2 linked regions of the Homo sapiens genome follow. The protein of the gene in region 1 purifies or fractionates together with the protein of each later gene. This does not show direct contact. Each region holds a gene or a part of one and is shown on either strand. Other genes may lie near its edges.

The links.
Region 2: the proteins of THEM5 (region 1) and ZYG11B purify together in Homo sapiens (co-immunoprecipitation; 2 studies listed by BioGRID and IntAct, with this or other methods). This does not show direct contact.

What each region holds. Positions count from the first base shown.
Region 1 is NC_000001.11:151,846,440-151,850,843, reverse strand, and holds the end of THEM5 (acyl-coenzyme A thioesterase THEM5), read left to right. Parts: exon of another isoform or gene 1-611; intron 612-2,551; coding exon 2,552-2,662; intron 2,663-2,981; coding exon 2,982-3,106; intron 3,107-3,429; coding exon 3,430-3,473; coding exon of another isoform or gene 3,474-3,724; 3' UTR 3,725-3,743; downstream 3,744-4,404. UniProt on the Homo sapiens protein: Has acyl-CoA thioesterase activity towards long-chain (C16 and C18) fatty acyl-CoA substrates, with a preference for linoleoyl-CoA and other unsaturated long-chain fatty acid-CoA esters.
Region 2 is NC_000001.11:52,764,334-52,771,625, reverse strand, and holds part of ZYG11B (protein zyg-11 homolog B), read right to left. Parts: intron 607-7,292; coding exon 1-606. UniProt on the Homo sapiens protein: Serves as substrate adapter subunit in the E3 ubiquitin ligase complex ZYG11B-CUL2-Elongin BC. Acts to target substrates bearing N-terminal degrons for proteasomal degradation with the first four residues of substrates being the key recognition elements.

The sequences.
Region 1 (4,404 bases):
CATCAAAGTCTCAAAATTTTCTGGACAAAAGACCTGAGAGGCCACTTTGAGAAGAATGTGGTACACTTGGAAGAGGGCAAGATCCGGAATCTAGACTCTGACTTGGTGTCCTGCCTGGCTGCTGCTGGCTGTGGGACTCTGAGCAAGCAATTGACCCCTGGTCTTTAGTCTTCTTACCTGAAACCTGGGGCAATAATATCTACCTGCCAGGGTGACCAGAGATATGATATTATGGGCCTATGTGTGCGTGCTCATGAACCGTAAAGCACAGTACAGCTATCAGACACTTCTACCCAAAACCCATGTTCTATCCATGGGGAAATGGAGATGCACACAGCTAAAGTAACTTGCCCGAGGCAGCACCAGCAATCAAAGTCAGATCCAGGACTCTAATCTGGGAGGTGAGATTCCAAGTCCACTGTTCTCTCCACTCTACTCTGCTGCCTCCAGACTTGGAACAGACCTCAGGAGGAATGCACACTGGGCATAAATGTGTCCACAAGGGAAATCAGGCTGACCGTGGGTCACCAAGTTCATGGTTGTCCCCCTTCTCTTCCATCCGGATGCCTGCTCCAGACAGTCACTGAAGGCTGGAGGTGGTGCTGGAGCTCCTGCAAGGGAGAGACAAGAGAGGGCAGGAGTGGCTTTAGGGTCCTGAAGCCTGAGAGGGGCTTAACTGGGGTTAAATAGAATCCAGAGTGCTAAATAGATGTCAGGGCCTCCAGAGGCTGTGGATGCCAACTGCAGCCCTCAGTCACCTTGGCCATCCCAAAGGAGTCCTCCACAGGGACACTGCTCCACACACTAGGCTGTGCAGATACTAGTGAATTGCTCAGAGCCCTGCCCAGGCCATGGACTCCCTCCTTTCTGAAGCATGGCTGACTTTTATTTAGGGGCTGATGGAAGTGAGGCCAAAGAGGCAGAGGAGGACCATCCAACACTAAGGCCAGTCAGTGGATTGAGGGGTTGGGGGTCTAGAGAAGAGATTAGTATCCACCAGGCCCCTAGACCATGGGGAGTGGGAAGGAGGAGTTACTCGTTGGCCAAGAGCTACTCTGTAGATCCACATACTGGCCAATGGGTCCCCAGGCTGGCCAGTGAGGACAAGGAGGAGAGAGTTGGTTTCGAGTTCTTTGACACCAACTCTTTTCACTCTCTTTCAAGCAATTTGGGAGGCAGACAGGGAAGTGCCTAAGAAGTGTGTAAATTATGTTTGCAAACATTTGTTTATTTAATCTGCTGAGATCAGAATTGTGAAATTCATGGTGGAAAAACTAAGGCTCAGAAAGGTTTAGCAATTTGCTCAAGATCAAACATGTAGTGAGCTGTGGGACAAGGAGTCCAACTGGGTGGATAGAGACTAAAGAAGCAGGGAGGGAAGGGTCTGGAAAAGCCACTGGTCACAGCAGCAGGAGGGTAACCCATGGCAGTACAGTGTGGACAGCTGATCTGGCTCTGTGGAGAATGGGCTGTGCTTTTGAAAATCAGGAACTCAAATCTGCTTGGTGTTATTTGAATTCTAAAATGGGTGCCTATTTTCCCAAATTAGCCAACCATGAAGTAGCTGACATAAAGCTTGCAAAAGCAAGAATGAACATTTTACGCTTTTTTTTTTTTTTTTAATTTTGAGACAGTCTTGATCTGTTGCCCAGGCTGGAATGCAGTGGCACAATCTCAGCTCACTGCAACCTCCACCCACCGGGTTCAATCGATTCTCATGTCTCAGCCTCTCGAGTAGCTGAGTTACAGGCGCTTGCCACCACACCCGTCTAATTTTTATATTTTTTAGTAGAGACGGAGTTTCACCATACTGGCCAAGCTGGTCTCGAACTCCTGACATCAAGTGATCTGCCCACCTCAGCCTCCCAAAGTGCTGGGATTACAGGCGTGAGCCACTGCGACTGGCCATTCTATGCATTCTAAATAAAGCAAATGTCTGCGGCATTTGAGCATTTCAGCTCAATTTCAGCATTGAGCCTGCTGAAGCAGGCGCTCTGCTTTCTGTGGCAACGCTGCTCAGAAGTGTGTCATGCCAGCCCTTGATAGGTCATAAGTTATGTTTCACATTTACTTATCTTGAGATGTGGGCCCCGCACTGGCTGTAGTGACTGGTAAGGTGAGAAACAGCCCAGGGTTGTGCCTCAAAGACTGAGTCAAAAAGTTCAGGGACTTTTTCATTTCCTGTATATGCCCATCCTTCCAAATTATGGCAATTATTGCCAGCAATTAGGTAATGAACCAGAAAAATGTTTTCTATTAACTTTATCAGAAAAAAACAATTTCCCTGATGAAATAAAATGTTGTATCATTGGCTGCAAACGCATGCTGAAGCAAAACAGAAAAGCTCAGTTGATTTTGACGGGTTTGATCAGATGGGATGCAGCTGTTTCCTTCTTTCCTATTTGGCTGCCCTGAGGCTGAACGTCTGTGTTTGGAAGGGTCTAGGGAAAGGGAAAGGTAGGATCACCACAGGAGGGAGGGAAGGCCCATTGAGGGGGTCTGCCCAGCAGCCCCAGCCCAGGCCTTGCTCCTCACCTTACCCCACCCCCAGGTTTGCTCACGGCGGGTCCCTGGCAGCCATGATGGACGAGACCTTTTCTAAAACTGCCTTCCTGGCTGGAGAGGGGCTGTTCACACTAAGTCTCAACATCAGGTTCAAAAAGTAAGTATGGGCCCCTGGGGCATTGGCCAAAGTCACAGACCTTTTCATCCCTGGAAGTGGCCATCCTCGGCAGCTGGGGTGTAGGAGCCCTGCCTGCCACTCTCCTTCCCCAGCCCACTCCCAAGCAATTCCTCTAGTCCCTGGCCAGGACACAGCCTCTGCTGTCCAACTTTGGGAGCTGACAAAAAGGCCCTGAGCCCAGGGCCACTTCTGAGTCCTCGAGGCCGGGAGGGATGAAGAGAGGGAAGAGGACACAGAGAGTGAAGGGATGGGGAACCGGGTTCACATGAGAGATGGGCTAAGCTGCCTCGTCTCCCAGCTTGATCCCCGTGGACTCTCTGGTTGTAATGGACGTAGAACTGGACAAGATTGAGGACCAGAAGCTTTACATGTCCTGCATCGCCCACAGCAGAGACCAGCAGACAGTTTATGCCAAGTCCTCAGGTAAAGGAGCCCCCAGCCCAGCCCCAGGCCCCGTCCCACCACCACCCACCCCCAGAACAAACAGGAGGAAGAAAAGATGCCAATGATTCATCCCAAGCTGCGGTCCAGCTTCTTTAGGGGTGGGATAGGGCACCTACTAGGGACACAGATGAAGCAAGGGAGAGCAGAACTAGGATTTTTTTTTCTATATATGAGTTATCCAACCTGTAACGAAAGGACAGGACCCAGGTAATGGGTAATTTGCAGCCAAATGCTCAGAGTGTCCATCAAGCTCCAGCCATCTCAGTGCAGCTCTTGCAGCTCAACTCACCCTTCTCTTGCAGGTGTTTTCCTTCAGCTGCAGTTGGAAGAAGAGTCTCCCCAGTAACAGTCACTGTGCCTGCAGGAGAGCCACTGCCTCCCCTGCCTGCCTCCTGCCTCCTGCCTCCCCTGCCTGCCTCCTGCCTCCTGCCTCCCCTGCCTGCCTCCTGCCTCCCCTGCCTGCCTCCTGCCTCCTGCCTCCCCTGCCTGCCTCCTGCCTCCTGCCTCCCCTGCCTGCCTGGGACCCATCAAAGAGCAGGGAGGGGTCCTCAAGCAGCAATTGGTGAGGCGAGGGAAAGGACCCTTTTCTCTGAGTAAATAAAGTCTCACAGTCCCATTCTCGGCCCAGGGCCTTTCTGTGGTTGGAAATCAAAATCCTTCCAGGGCATCTCACATACCCACCTTCCCATTCAGCACCGACTGAAAAGATTTACTGAGTACCCGCCAGGTGTCAGGCACTGTGTGAGGCACCAGGCACCCAGAAGTGAAAGACAGGGCCCCGGTCTCAAGATGCACAATGCGGGAGCCAGGTGCCAAGTCAGAGTGCCCTATCACGCTCCTCCCACACCCACCCTGGCTTCCATCATGAGTGCAGTGTCATCTCAGCGGGAGGAAGGGCTAATTTTACTCTACAAAAGCAATCAGAAAACATCTTCTAGAAGAAGCTCTTCCTGAACTGTCTCAAAAGTTAAGTGGTGTTCATTAGGCAGGCAGGGGAGAGGAGGATATCCCAGGCAGAAGGGAAGTAAGAAGTAAGACAAAGGTGCAGAGGTGTGAAAGTGTACAGGGACTTTGGAGAAGAGCAAGGTGTTGAGGAGGGCAGGCGTTTAGGGAAAGAGAAGGTGGGCAGGAGCAAACCACAGGAAGGCTTCATAATCCCTGATGGAGAGCTGGAACTTTGTCTTGCAGGCAACAGGGAGCCTCCAAAGGGCTTGGGCTGGGGAGTGACAGAGCTTTGTTATTTAGAAAGATGACTCAGTGGCAGTAAGGCGTCAGCA
Region 2 (7,292 bases), about 99 Mb from region 1:
GGTTAGGTAGGATGTCTTTTTGTTCTAGTAAGCGAAGAGCTATGTCTGATGTAAACTGTTTATCATCTGAGATATCAAGATGATTCAGATGTTTGAGTTCCCGAACTACATCCAGTATCTGGGTAGTTGTCATTTTTAAACATTTCAAGTGGTGCATGGTTAGAGACTTGAGTCGGTCTTTGCAGGCCAGTAGAGCAGTGATGTCTGTGATTGAGGTGTTAGAAATATCCAAGCTCTCTAATCTTGGCAATGAGGCAACTTCAGCCAGGTCTTCATTGTAAAAGAGAACATTCGTGATGCTTAAAGCTCGAAGGCCAGAAAGCCGGCTGAAGCAGCGCTCGTAAGGATCCTCGAGGGAGAGAGTTAATGAATTCAGCACCAGGCACTGGAGATTCTGCTGGATCCATTTGTTACTGCCAAGCCCACTGATAATGTCTGTAATCGTGATATCAGCATTCACACCTGTGGCATCAAGTTCCACTAACTTGTGGTGGCAGAAAGCTTTCCGGAAAGCAACAGCAGAGATCTTTGCTTTGCGAATGCAGGCTCGCTTTAAGCGCATCTGGTTGCCCCTAAAAATACCCACAGTTCCATCATTCAATAGACCTGTGGAAAAACAAGCAGCGTTTTAAATTCAAAAAACAGTTAAAGAATAGCCAAAATTTCCATCACACTTTACATTTCCAAAGCGCTCCCATGTAACAGTATCTCGTCTGATAATCACAATTCATTTAGGTGAGATTATTATTGTTTACAACTTGTAGATGAGTAAACTGGGGCTCAGAGAGTGGCTTTCCAAGATCACAGGGCTAGCAAGTGGCAGAATCAGGACTGTGGCAGACATTATTGATATCCACTAACATCTAGTTCTTACCTTACCAGACAACTACATTTCCCAGCCCATCCCTGGAGTTAGCTGGAGCCATGTGCCTAGTTCTGGCCAATGCACTATATGTTGAAGCACCTGAGAGCCAGTGCATGATTTTCCATGCTGTCTTTTCCTGCTATGACAAACGAGGAGACTTCACGTTCTAGAGAGTATAGTTATATGAGGAGAAACCCTCCATCAGTTTGGACCCTAGGGTGACCATGAAGCAGAATCCTCTATGGACTTGCAGAGTTTATGTACCACAAGTGAGGTATAAACCTTGTGTTAAGGTATTTGATTTGTTACCAATACATTTCTAGCCTATCCTTTAAATTCACCTTAACATATTATTATACAAACACATATACACATAATATATTTAGCATGCACTTAATGCCTTGTAATTCATTAATAAACCACTAGCCAGATCTCAAACCTTATTAAAGCGATCTAGGCCTGGGAAACATAGCAAGACCCCATCTCTGCAAAATAACTGAAAACGAGTTGGGCACAGTGGTCATGCCTATAGTCCTAGCTACTAGGGAGGCTGAGATGGAAGGATCATTTGAGCCCAGGAGTTTGTGGTTATAGTGAATTATGATTGCACCATTGCACACCAGCCTGGGTGACAGAGTGAGAACCTGTCTCTGAAAAAAAAAAAAAAATATATATATATATATATATAGTAGTTACAGCTTCCCCCCACACTCCCCCTCCTGCAGATGAATGTAAATGAAGTCGACACAGTAACCTCTTGAAGTGCCTTCGAGATCTACCTGTCTACCAATCAACAGTGTCACAAGCATATGATACTCTGGAGGCACATCAACATATCACATATCAACTAAACAACATTGACTGTGAAAGAAGTAACAATCATGCCAAAAACAGGTAGTCTAAGAATAGTATGGGGTGAATGAGCAGTTGAGGACAGGTAAATAAATAGCCTGAAGTCATGAGAGGAACTCTAAGGCGGCATCTTAGCTGGCCCATACTCAAAATGCAGCTAGGCTGCCAGCCAGTCACCCTTAAATTAGAAATGAGGTGTTTTTAAAAGGGAGCACTATTCTCTAATGAGTTTTGCAGACTTAATTACAGTTACACAGTTAAAATCAAGAAAGGCCTGTGCAAAACCTGCCAAAGTGGACAAAAATGACTAATTACATATTAAGAACTCCATTACATTTTAGAGCTGTGCTGCCCAATACATAGTCACTAGCTCCACACAGCTGGAGAGCACTTGGAAAGCAGGTGGTACAAAGTGAGGTCAGCTATAAAGTACAAAATATACACCAGATTGTGAAGACTTAATACAACAAAATAATGTAAAGTATCTCAATTTTTTATATATACTACAGGTTGAAATGATCATTTTTTAATATATTGGGTTAAATAAAAATTATTAAAACTCGTTGCACTTGTTTTTCTTTTTATTTTTTTATGTGGCCACCGGTAAATTTAAAATTACATTTCGATTAAACAATGTAGTTCTAGAGACAGCCTTTCAAATTACCTGCACTCTATTTCAGGAGAGTAAATTTCATGATGGGGTCCATTCAGCAAACAGTTTATTAAACAATTACTATATGTCAAGTACTCTAAATGTTGTAGATACAAAGAAAAATAAGATATGCCCCTATAGTCAAAGGATTCATAATCCCATGGAGTAAAAAAGACACAAACAGCCATAACAAAATGAGATATATGGTATATCAATGTCAAGTATAAAGTATCACAAAAACAAAGAAAAGGAAGTAAACCATCATGAATGAAGATCTGGAAAAGATTTGATGGGAGAGGTGATCTTTGAGTAAGGCCTTTGAAAATGCTGGAAGAATTCAAAGATAGAGAAAGGAGGTTAGTAGGCCAGGTGCAGTGGCTCATGCCTATAATGCCAGCATTTTGGGAGGCCGAGGCGGATGGATCACCTGAGGCCAGGAATTCGAGACCAGCCTGGCCAACGTGGCAAAACCGCGTTTCTACTAAAAATGCAAAAATTAAATGGGTGTGGTGGTGCGCGCCTGTAATACCAGCTACTTGGGAGGTTGAGGCAGAGAATCACTCGAACTTGGGAGGCGGAGGCTGCAGTGAGCCGAGATGGCGCCACTGCACTCCAGCCTGGGCGTCAGAGCAAGACTCCATTTCAAAAAAAAAAAAAAAAGAGGAAGAAGGTTAGGTATATTAAAGCAAGAATATACAACATAAGCAAAGTCTTAAAGATGTGAAAGCATATCACGGGGTTAGGAAATGGCAAGTAGTTCTTTCTATATTGCTTGAACATAAGAAATAGCTAGAGCCATAGATGCAGTGCATTTCTGGGGATATAAGCATGCAAATGGGACAGAAGAAATGAGGCTGAAGGTGAGCTGGAGCTAGATCACTCTGAAAGGTGAAGAGATGAAAGCAGATCAGCTAGGGGGGACCTTGGGACCCATGGAACAACGCAGAAAAGTTCCTGGTTTTTTTCTGGTCATATATCCCAGATCTAAAGTTGAAGGAGCCAGCAGCCTGGAAACACCAATGGGCACAGACAAAAACCTCCCCCAAAATCTGCTCTCTCTAGCCAACGTACCAGGAAAGCAGCAACTAGTAAGACAGGAAACAGCTAGTAGACAGTAACTGCTCTACTTCAGCCAAACACGACAGAAAAAACTGCAGCTCCACCCATGCCAGCAAATGCCAATAGGGGCCTAGATTTCTACCCCTGCCAGGCTGTAATTACTTGCCCCAATCTGCCCACAGGGGAGGTGTTAGAGAAGTCTGAGTAGAGAGCAAGGACTTTCATTCCTGCTGGGTAGTAAGAACTATCCCCCACCACGATGTTAGTAGATACCTTCTGGGGAGCCTGAACTTCAACACTCATCAAGCAGCGATGAAGTTCTCTACCTGCTTCCCTGCTGGGGTGCTGTCATAGGAAGTCTAGTGGAAAGTCAGGACTTTCACAACTGCCCAACAGTAATGAGGCCACCTCCTCCCAACATGGTGTCAGTAGAAGCCAACTGGGAAGCAGAAATGACATACCCATACCCCTCTCATTTAGGGAAGTATCAATAGAATCCTAGTGGGGAGTCAGAATTCCAACCTCTGCATAGCCCTGCACCTTGGGTGTCAAGAGAAGCCAAGTGGGGAACCAGAAAGAACATTAACCCTAATCTGGCTGGGCATAGTGGCTCACACCTGTAATCCCAGCACTTTGGGAGGCCGAGGCGGATGGATCACAAGGTCAGGAGATCGAGACCATCTTGGCCAACATGGTGAAACCCCGTCTCTACTAAAACACAAAAAATTAGCCAGGCCTGATGGTGCCTGCCTGTAATCTCAGCTACTTGGGAGGCTGAAGCAGGGGAATCGCTTGATCCCAGGCGACGGAGGTTGCAGTGAGTTGAGATCGCACCATTGCACTCCGGCTTGGGCAACAAGAGCGAAACTCCACCTCAAATATAACATAACATAAAATAAAATAACAACATAACATAAAATAAAATAACAAAATAAAATAACATAAAATAACAACATAAAATAAAATAACAAAATAAAATAACATAAAATAACAAAATAAAATAAAATAACATAACGTAACAAAATAACATAACATAAAATAAAATAACAAAACAACATAAAATAACAAAATAAAATAAAATAACAACATAAAACATAACAAAATAATATAACATAAAATAACATAAAAAATAAAAATAACATAAAATAAAATAACATAAAATAAATAAAATAAAATAATTTTTTTTTTTTTGAGACGGAGTCTCGCTTTTCACCCAGGCTGGAGTGCAGTGGCGCGATCTGGGCTCACTGCAAGCTCTACCTCCCGGGTTCACACCATTCTCCCGCCTCAGCCTCTGGAGTAGCTGGGACTACAGGCACACGCTGCCATGCCCAGCTAATTTTTTGTATTTTTAGTAGAGACGGGGTTTCACCGTGTTAGCCAGGATGGTCTTGATCTCCTGACCTCGTGATCCGCCCGCCTCGGCCTCCCAAAGTGCTGGGATTACAGGCGTGAGCCACTGTGCCTGGCCTATAAAAATTTTTACAAAGAACATTAACCCCAATCTGGCAGTAACAAGGCAGTGCTCCTACCTTCCACTGCTGGAGTGACGTCAGTGACTCAAACTAAAACAGAAAAGTCTCATATCACCTAAAATGTCCTGGTTTCAATAAAAAATTACTCTGAATCATACTAAGAACCAGTAAGACTTCAAACTCAAAAAGAGATAATCAATATATGCCAACAGTAAGGTAACAGAAATGTTAAAATTATTTGACAACGATTTTAAAGGAGCCATAAAAAAATGCAATTAAATTTTCAAAAGTAAACAAATATGCTTGAAAAAAAATGAGTAACAGACCAGGCGCGGTGGCACTTTGGGAGGCCAAGGCAGGCAGATCATGAGGTCAGGAGTTCGCGACCAGCCTGACCAACATGACGAAACCCCATCTCTACTAAAAATACAAAAATTAGCTGGGCATGGTGGCACACGCCTGTAGTCCCAGCTACCCAGGAGGTTGAGACAGAAGAATCACTTGAACCTGGGAGACAGGGGTTGCAGTGAGCCAAGATCGCACCACTGCACTCCAGCCTGGGCGACACAGCAAGATTCTCCATCTCAAAAAAAAAAAAAAAATTTAAAAAAAATTTAATAAGGAAAAAAAGAAAAAAATGAAAACAGACTCAGCAAGGCAAGAGAAGATATAAAGAAGAATCAAATAAAAATTTTAGAAGTGAAAAATATAATAATGCTTGAGGTCAACAGTAAAATAGAGAACAGAGAAAAAAGACTGGTGAACTAGAAGATAAAACAACATAAATTACCTAATTTAAATAACAAGAACAGAATGGGAAAAAAACCAAAACCAAAAACCTAAAGCTATATTTGTGTCACTGGAATATCTCAAGGACAGGAGAAAGACAGTGTGGCTGAAAAAGTACTTAAAGAAATAATGAGCAGGCACAGTGGCTCATGCTTATAATCCCAGTACTTTGGGAGGATGAGACAAGAGGATTACCCGAGGCCAGGAGTTTGAGACCAGCCTGGGCAACATTGCAAGACTCCATCCCAACAACAAAAAATTTTAATTAGTCGGGCATGGTGGTACATACCTGTAGTCCTAGCTAGCTAGTCGGGAGGCTGAGGTCGAAGGGTCGCTTGAGCCCAGGAGTTTGAGATTATAGTAAGCTATGATTGCACTCTAGCTTGGGTGACAGAGTAAGACCCTGACTGGGAAAAAACAAAAAACAAAAAACAAAAAACTGAGTGTGGTGGCTCATTCCTGTAATTGGGAGGCTGAGGTGGGAGGACTGCTTTGAGCCCAGGGGTTCAAGACCAGCCTGCACAACATAGAAAGACATCATCTCCATTACAAATTTTTAAAAATTAGTCAGATGTTGGTGGCATGCACCTGTGATCTCAGCTACTTAGGAGGCTGAGGCAGGAGGACTGCTTGAGTCCAGGAGTTCAAGGCTGCAGTGAGCTATGATCATGCCACTACACTCCAGCCTGGGAAACAGAATCAGACCTTGTCTCAAAAAATAATTTTTTTTAATTAAAAAAAAAGATAGGCTGGATGTGGTGGCTCACGCCTATAATCCTAGCACTTTGGGAGGCCAAGGCAGGAGGACTCCTTGAGGCCAGGGGTTCAAGACCAACCTGGCCAACATAGTGCGACTCCATCTCTATTAAAAAAAAAAAAAAGATCACTCAGAAAAATTGGAAGCAGTGGTTTACATGGAGTTAAGGGAATTTTATCTGATGGCTTCAATTTTCTTCCTAAGATAAATGGTAGAAAGTCTGAGAAGAGCAAAGAACATCTGAAACTACTGTTAGGAACACTAGTTTACTGGGGAAATACTCCAGAACTCCTGGGCAGTGCCGAGGAGCCCGCCTTTATGTTACTGACTTCCCTCCTTGTCATTCAGGTCTCAGTCTAGTATCACCACTTTAGAAGCTTTCTCTGATCATCCAAGTTAAAACATCTCCCTTCCTTTATTATTCTTCTTAAGAGAACAGTGTTCTTTTTCCCTCAGAGAACCTGGCACAAGCTGTAATTCTATATGTTTACTTCCTAATTGTGTCTCCCACTGGACTATACGCTCCATGAAAGCAAGATTCATGTTGCATTCATTGTCTTATTTAAATATTCACAGTAATCCCTGTGAGGGAGTTATAATTATCAACACTTTACAGATGAGGAATCTTAGACTTGCAGAGTAACTTATCCAGGGTCAAAGAGCAAATTAATGTTGGAACCAGGACTCAGACCTAGGACCGATTTATAGAACTCATGCTCTTTTCTTATTTTAAAAAAATCTTGGCTGGGTGTGGTAAATTACACCTATAATCCCAGCACTTTGGGAGGCCAAGGCAGGTGGATCACCTGAGGTCAGGAGTTTGAGACCAGCCTGGTCAACATG